Linked DNA regions of Homo sapiens. The protein of the gene in region 2 interacts with the protein of the main gene of each other region in a pairwise test. Each region holds a gene or a part of one and is shown on either strand. Other genes may lie near its edges.

The links. Proteins that work in one complex are often made in the same cells at the same time.
Region 1: the proteins of TBCCD1 (region 2) and LURAP1L interact in binary tests that used the Homo sapiens proteins (3 or more experiments, as listed by UniProt).

Annotation. Positions count from the first base shown.
Region 1 is NC_000009.12:12,777,970-12,781,724, forward strand, and holds part of LURAP1L (leucine rich adaptor protein 1-like), read left to right. Parts: intron 1-3,755.
Region 2 is NC_000003.12:186,560,655-186,564,409, reverse strand, and holds part of TBCCD1 (TBCC domain-containing protein 1), read left to right. Parts: intron 1-37; 5' UTR 38-80; coding exon 81-416; intron 417-3,755. UniProt on the Homo sapiens protein: Plays a role in the regulation of centrosome and Golgi apparatus positioning, with consequences on cell shape and cell migration.

The DNA of each region.
Region 1 (3,755 bases), on a different chromosome or scaffold from region 2:
ACAACTACTTTTGCACCAACCTAATATTTATTAAGACTTTACTTTTTTGAGACACAATTTCTGAAACTGGGATTTATGTTGAGAGTCTCTAAGGTCCCTGATAATTTGTCGCATTTGTTGTTGTTTTTTGGAGAATATTTCATCACTACTCAAATGATGGTCCTCTGGTCTGGTGGAAGCTTCGTAAGCTTTGAAGCCAGATAAACCAGGGTTTCAGACAAGTCTAGAGCAAGTCAGGATATCAATAAGACCCAATAGGATGTAGGGCTGCCTGTCTAGGGAGACATTTAGCTTATCTTCCCCGGCAAAAAGGCTTGTCCCGCTCTCTGTGGCCCTCATTCTAGTCATGGCTTTTTCACTCACTAGTGTGTGGCACTGAACAAGTTATAGAACCACTTTGAGACTCAGCTTTCTTGTTAACATAGGAATAAGAGCATCTCCATTAAGGCATTTTAAGAATTCAGTGAAATAATATAAGAAAAACAACTATTACATAGATATTCAAAAACAGTAAGGATGCTGGCAGTAATGAGCATTACATCAATGACATGGGTTCCGTTGATCTTACAAAAGCAGCCCTACATGGATAATGTGGATTTGGGACTGATGAAGGCCTAGATATCTTCTCCACCAGACTGACTCTATCATGTCATCTCCCATGTCATCAGATACTCTCTGTAGAGACGATGTTTCCAAACAAACTAACGCACAAAATATGTGTAGGTTTCCCTAGCTTCAGTTCAACTGGAAATCTTGATTTTTATTTTAAATTTAACTTTTATTAAACACATGCTATGTGCTAAGCATGCTGCTGATTGAAGTAGCATGTATGAAAGAATTGTAGAGCCTAATGTCAGGTAGTCCAGGAAATCTGAGGAACTTAAACCAATACAGTAGCCCACCTTATCCATGGGAGATATGTTCCAAGACCTCCAATGGATGCTTGAAACTGTGGATAGTACCAAAGCCTATATAGACTGTTTAGTCCTATGCGTACGTACCTATTGTAAAGTTTAATTTATAAATCAGTCACAGTAAGAGATTAACAATAATAACTAACAATAAAATAAAACAGTGTATTGCTATGTGAATGTCTCTCTCTCTCTTTCTCTCTCATTCTCTCTCTCTCAAAATACTATAATATTTTCAGACTGCAGTTGACTGTAGGTAACTAAAAGCAAAGCCATAGATAAGGGTGTACTACTACATTTGGTTACTTTGGTGAGACTTTACTATGTGTAAGACACGGTGCTAGTTAAACATTTTATATGTATTATCCCGTTGAAATCTTATAATCTTTTTTTTTTTTTTTTTTTTTTTTTTGAGACGGAGTCTCGCCCTATCGCCCAGGCTGGAATGCAGTGGAGCGATCTCGGCTCACTGCAAGCTCCGCCTCCCAGGTTCAGGCCATTCTCCTGCCTCAGCCTCCCAAGTAGCTGGGACTACAGGCACCTGCAACCACGCCCGGCTAATTTTTTGTATTTTTAGTAGAGACAGGGTTTCACCGTGTTAGCTAGGATGGTCTCTATCTCCTGACCTCGTGATCCGCCACGGCCTCTCAAAGTGCTGGGATTACAGGCGTGAGCCACCGTGTACGGCCGAAACTTTATAATCTTTTAACTAAATGTAATTGTCACCATAATCTTATAGACAAAGCATTGAGGTTTATTGAGCTAATGCTGAAGGTAGTAAGTGGAGGAGCCAGGATGAGGTCAGAATCTGAGATTTTAACCATGCCTATGCTGTCACTTCTTACACTTTAGAATACCTCCATGCTCATGTGGACACCTAGGAACAAATGAATATTTCTATTCTTCTCCCAGAATTTCAAAACATTAAACATGTTAAACTGTATTTTTGTTTACCATAAGCCTTCCCAGGAGGAACAAGCACTAAACACAGTCTCTGGCTTAGGATTTGGATGAACATATTCAAAAGCCATCTGCTTCCCAGCAATCATAATCATACCCTTTCCTTTTGGCCACTATCACCAAGATCTCCAGTAGTACTTCCTCTCAGTCCACAAGAACTGCCATGAGCAGTTAAAGGTTCTCCTGACACGACCAGTTCAAGTTTTAGAGCTCAATAATATTCATGATGTAGGAGTATCAAGAGCTTTTCATTGGTAGCATTTTAGTTCCCCAAGAGATTCTGTTCAGGATAAAACTTAGACCTTAGGTAACTCCCTAGAAAGAACTAGAAACTTGGAATCCTGACACCATCTTGTGTTCATTTAAGCAGTACTTTCAAATTGCTGTTTTTCCAACAGGAACTCAGTTATCCTCTTCTTCTCAAATGATATCAGTTGCACAGCACTGTGTGGTGACTTGCCAGGTGTGTGGTTGAAAACACATCCATCTGAATTGTGCTCATGTAAACTGCACTCATAGAATTCACAAGGAAAAAAAACAAGGTTATATTTCAAAAGTCTCGATCTTAGACCTCTAAATTAAACCTGAATTATTCATTTTCTTAAAAAGGGGCTAAACACTGTGGTGGATGTTGAGATATAACTAGGACAGTATTATTTCATTTTACAGATAAGGAAACTATGGCTTACAGAGATTAATTAACTATGATTCCCAGCCTGTTATTCAAACAAGAACCACTGTGAGCCTGGCTATCTGCTTGATCCAAAGTAATCCCAAACTATACTATATACTATATGCACTACGAAATGTGCCCATTTACTGTGAACGAACATTTTTATAGTAATTTCATCACATATCTACCAATGGATCTTTTGGCATTCCTTTAAAAATATTGTTTCTTTTTTTTAAAAAAAATAAATGTTTCTCATTGTAAAACTTCCAATAATACAGTAATAAATTGTATAAATAAGAAGAAAAGTTCACTTAATCTTACTCCTCCCCATTTTACTCTATACTCCAGAGGAAATACTTCTGACATTTTGTTTGTTTGTTTAATCCATGAGCTCAGCCATTTATCATATCTTTGTGTTACAAACATTCCAAATATACTCTTTTAGTTATTATTATTATTATTAGTTTTATTATTTGAGATGGAGTTTCGCTCTTGTTGCCCAGGCTGGAGTGCAATGGCTCAATCTCAGCTCACCGCAACCTCTGCCTCCTAGGTTCAAGCGATTCTCCTGCCTCAGCCTCCCGAGTAGCTGGGATTACAGGCATGTGCCACTACGCCCGACTAATTTTGTATTTTTAGTAGAGATGGGGTTTCTCCACGTTGGTCAGGCTGGTCTGGAACTCCTGACCTCAGGTGATCTGCCTGCCTCGGCCTCCTAAAGTGCTGGGATTACAGGTGTGAGCCACTGTGCCCGGCCCCTTTTAGTTATTTTTAAATGTACAATAAATTATTGTTGACTGTAGTCACCCTGTTGTACTACCAAACGTTAGCTCTTATTACTTCTTTCTAACTATATTAATGTATCCATTAACCATTCCACTTCCCCCCAGCTCGCTACCCCTTCCCAGCCTCTGGTAACCATCATTCTACTTCCTAGCTCCATGAGTTCAACTGTTTTCATTTTTAGCTCCCACGAATAAGTGAGACCACGCCAAGTTTGTCTTTCTGTGCCTGACTTATTTCACTTGTCACGAAATCCTCCACTTCCATCCATGTTGTTGCAAATGACAGATTCTAATTCTTTTCTTCTGGCTGATTAGTACTCTATTGTGCGTACGTACAACATTTTCTTTATCCGTTTGTCTCTTGATGGACACAGGTTGCTTGTAAATCTTAGCTATTGTGAATAGTGCTGCAATAGACACAGGAGT
Region 2 (3,755 bases):
GTTTCAAATCAGTTTATGAAGAAACTTTGTTTCCTAGGTATGCAAAGAAGCCTTTTCACCCTGATGTCCTTAGAGATAATATGGATCAGTCCAGAGTTCTCCTCTGGGTGAAAGCAGAACCCTTTATAGTGGGTGCCTTGCAGGTCCCCCCTCCATCCAAGTTTAGTCTTCACTATCTCAGGAAGATATCCACCTATGTGCAAATCCGGGCCACAGAAGGAGCTTACCCGCGCCTCTACTGGTCTACATGGAGGCACATCGCTTGTGGGAAGCTGCAGTTGGCCAAGGACCTGGCGTGGCTTTACTTCGAAATATTTGATAGTCTTTCAATGAAGACACCTGAGGAGCGCCTGGAATGGTCTGAGGTTCTGTCCAACTGCATGTCTGAGGAGGAAGTTGAAAAGCAGAGAAATCAGGTACGGATTGATATGTGTGTATACTTAATTACTTTTGGAAAGAAACCATTCTTTTTTAAATTAAAAAATGTTTTTGCTTATTACAATTTTTAGATAGAAACAGAGTTTCACTTTGTTGCCCAGGCTGGTCTTGAACTCCCGGCTTCAAGCAGTCTTCCTGCCTCGGCCTCCCAAAATGTTAGGATTACAGGCATGAGCCACCATGTCTGGCCCAATAAACCATTCTTAATTTTTGTATTAGCTGTAAAATTTTAGGTTTTAGGCTAATGGCCATTGTAATCTCAAGTTATCATTTGAGTTTTAGTAGTTCCAGTTTGGCAGTATTTCATGTATTCAATGAATTAGTCCTTACTTACCAGACCTTACTCACCTACTCCCAAAGCAGTAATGTTACAGAGACCCTGTTATTGAAAAAGGGAAATATTTTACTGACTTTAAAAAGATTTTGGGGTGAATGAGTGTTATGAACAACTGATATGTTACAGTCAGAGCACCTGACTATTTTAAAATGAACATCTGCTACATGATGGGATTCAAAGATGATTAGGATAGCATCTCAACCCTCATGGAGCTTATGGACTAGTAGAGGAAGCTGGTATTAAAAAAAGATGCTATTTAATAGTGTGATATGTATAATAAAAGAATACACAAAGTACAGAAATTGAATAAAGAATGATTTATTTCAGTGATAAGGAAAGACTTCACAGAGAAAGTATATTAATCAAGTAGGCTGATTATAGTAATAGACAACCCAGTATTTCAGTGGCTTAGAACAGTAACAGTTTATTTCTCATTCAGGCAGCAATCTAACACAGTTGCTCCTGGTTGGACAAATCTCTGGGCTGCTGTCATCCAAGCGATGACCAGGGATCCATGCTTCTATCACTTGGAGTCACTGTTAATCAGCTTTGTTAAAAGCTGATTTCATTCATTAAGAACAAACAAATGAAATTCCAGTGGCTTACAGGGGAAAAGGTTTATTTCTTGCCCATTTTACATGTGGGCTTCATTTTTGCTATGGCATTTGTCCAGGCTCCGTGTTTCCCCATTTAGGGACACAGGCTAAAGAAATAGCTTCTGTGTAGATCATTCCCATTCTTATAACAGAAGGGAAGATCAACAGAATGGAGGAAACTCATGATGTCTCTTTTTAAATTCTTATTTTATGTATACAGCTCAATCAGTTTGGGGATAAGTATATGCTGTGAAACCATCATGACCGTCAAGGACATAGACATACCCATCACCCCCCATAGGTTCCCCCTCCTCTTTTATGCTTGTTATTTTGTGTGTGTATCTGTTAAGAACACTTAACATAAGATCTACTGTCTTAGAGAATTTTAAGTATACAACATGTAATTGTTATCTCTAGGCGGTATGCTGTAGAGTAGATCTTCAGAACTTAATTTTCTTGCATAACGGAAACTTTGTAGCCTTTGACCATCAACCTCCCCATTTCCCCCTCCTCCTAGCCCTTGTCAGTCACCCTTCTGTCTGTTTTTATGAGTTTGACTATTTTAGATTCCACATATAAGTGAGATTACATAGCTTTGTCTTTCTGTGTCTGGCGTGTTTTACTTAGCATAATGTCCTCCAGGTCCATCCATGTTGTTGAAAATGGCAGGATTTCTCTCTCTTTCTGTTTTTAAGAGACAGGATCTCACTCTGTTGCCCAAGCTGGAGTACAGGGATGTAATCATAGCTCACTATAGCCTGGAATTTCTGGGCACAAGCAATCCTTCCACCTCAGCCTCCTGAGTGGTTAGGACTACAGGTGTGTGCTATCATGCCTGGCAAATTTTTGTATTTTTTTCATAGAGGTCAGGATCTCACTGTGTTGCCCAGGCTGGTCTTGAACTCTTGGCCTCAAGTGATCCTCCCACCTCAGCCTCCCAAAGTGTTGGGATTACAGGCATAAGCCACTGTACCCAACATGATTTCTTTCTTTTTTAAGGCCAAATGGTACTCCATTATATATGCATGCCAAGTTTTCTTTATCTAGTCATCCATCTGTGGACATTTAGGCTGCTTCCATATCTTGGCCATTATCAATAATGCTGCAATGAACATGGGAGTGCAGGTATTTGCAGGATCCTGATTTCAATTCCTTTGGATAAATACCCAGAAGTGGGATTGCTAGATCGTATGGTAGTTCTCTTTTTTATTTTTTGAGAAACCACTATACTATTTATTTATTTTTTTTTTGAGACGGAGTCTCGCTCTGTCGCCCAGGCTGGAGCGCGGTGGCGCGATCTCAGCTCATTGCAAGCTCCACCTCCCAGGTTCACACCATTCTCCTGCCTCAGCCTCCTGAGTAGCTGGGACTACAGGCACCCACCACCATGCCCGGCTAGTTTTGTGTATTTTTTAATAGAGATGGGGTTCACCATGTTAGCCAGGATGGTCTCAATCTCCTGACCTCATGATCCGCCTGCCTCGGCCTCCCAAAGTGCTGGGATTACAGGCGTGAGCCACCGCGCCCGGCCCTATTTTTTATAATGGCTGTACCAGTTTACATTCTCACTGACAGTGTACCAGGGTTCCCTTTTCTTCACATCCTTACTAATACTTGTTAATCTTTTGTTAACAAGTGTGAGGTGATATCTCATTGTGGTTTTGCTTTATATTTCTCTAATGAGTAGTGATGTTGAGCACCTTTTCGTATACCTGTTGGCCATTTGTATGTCTTCATTGGAGAAATGTCTATTCAGGTCCATAGTCCATTTTTTAATTAGGTTATTTGGTTTTTCTTGCTATTGAGCTGCAGGAGTTCATTATATATTTTCGATATTAACCCCTTACCAGATACATGGTTTACCTTTTCTTCTGTTGATTGTTTCCTTAGTTGTGCAGAAGCTTTTTAGTTTGATATAATTCAACTTATTTTTGCATTGGTTGCCTGTGCTTTTGGTGTCATATCCAAACAATCATTACCAAGACCAATGTCAAGGAGCTTTTTCCTTATTTTTCTCTAGGAGTTTTACCATTTCACCCCTTACATTTAAGTCTTTCCTCCATTTTGAGTTGATTGTGTATGGTATAAGCTATGGTCCCAATTTCATTCTTTTGCATTTGTAGATCCAGTTTTCTCAGCATCATTTATTGAAGAGACTATTCTGCGTTTTGTATTCTTGACACCCTTGTGGAAAATTAGTTGACCATATATGTGTGAGTTTGTTTCTGGACTCATGATGCCTCTTAAAACTTTTGCTCAGATTTGACATAAACTAAGACTACTTTTATTCCATTGGCTAAGGCATTATTCCCATGAAGATGGGAAGGTAAACCACCTTTCAGGAGATAAGGAAAATCCCATGGCCATGGGTAGGGCTGTATAAG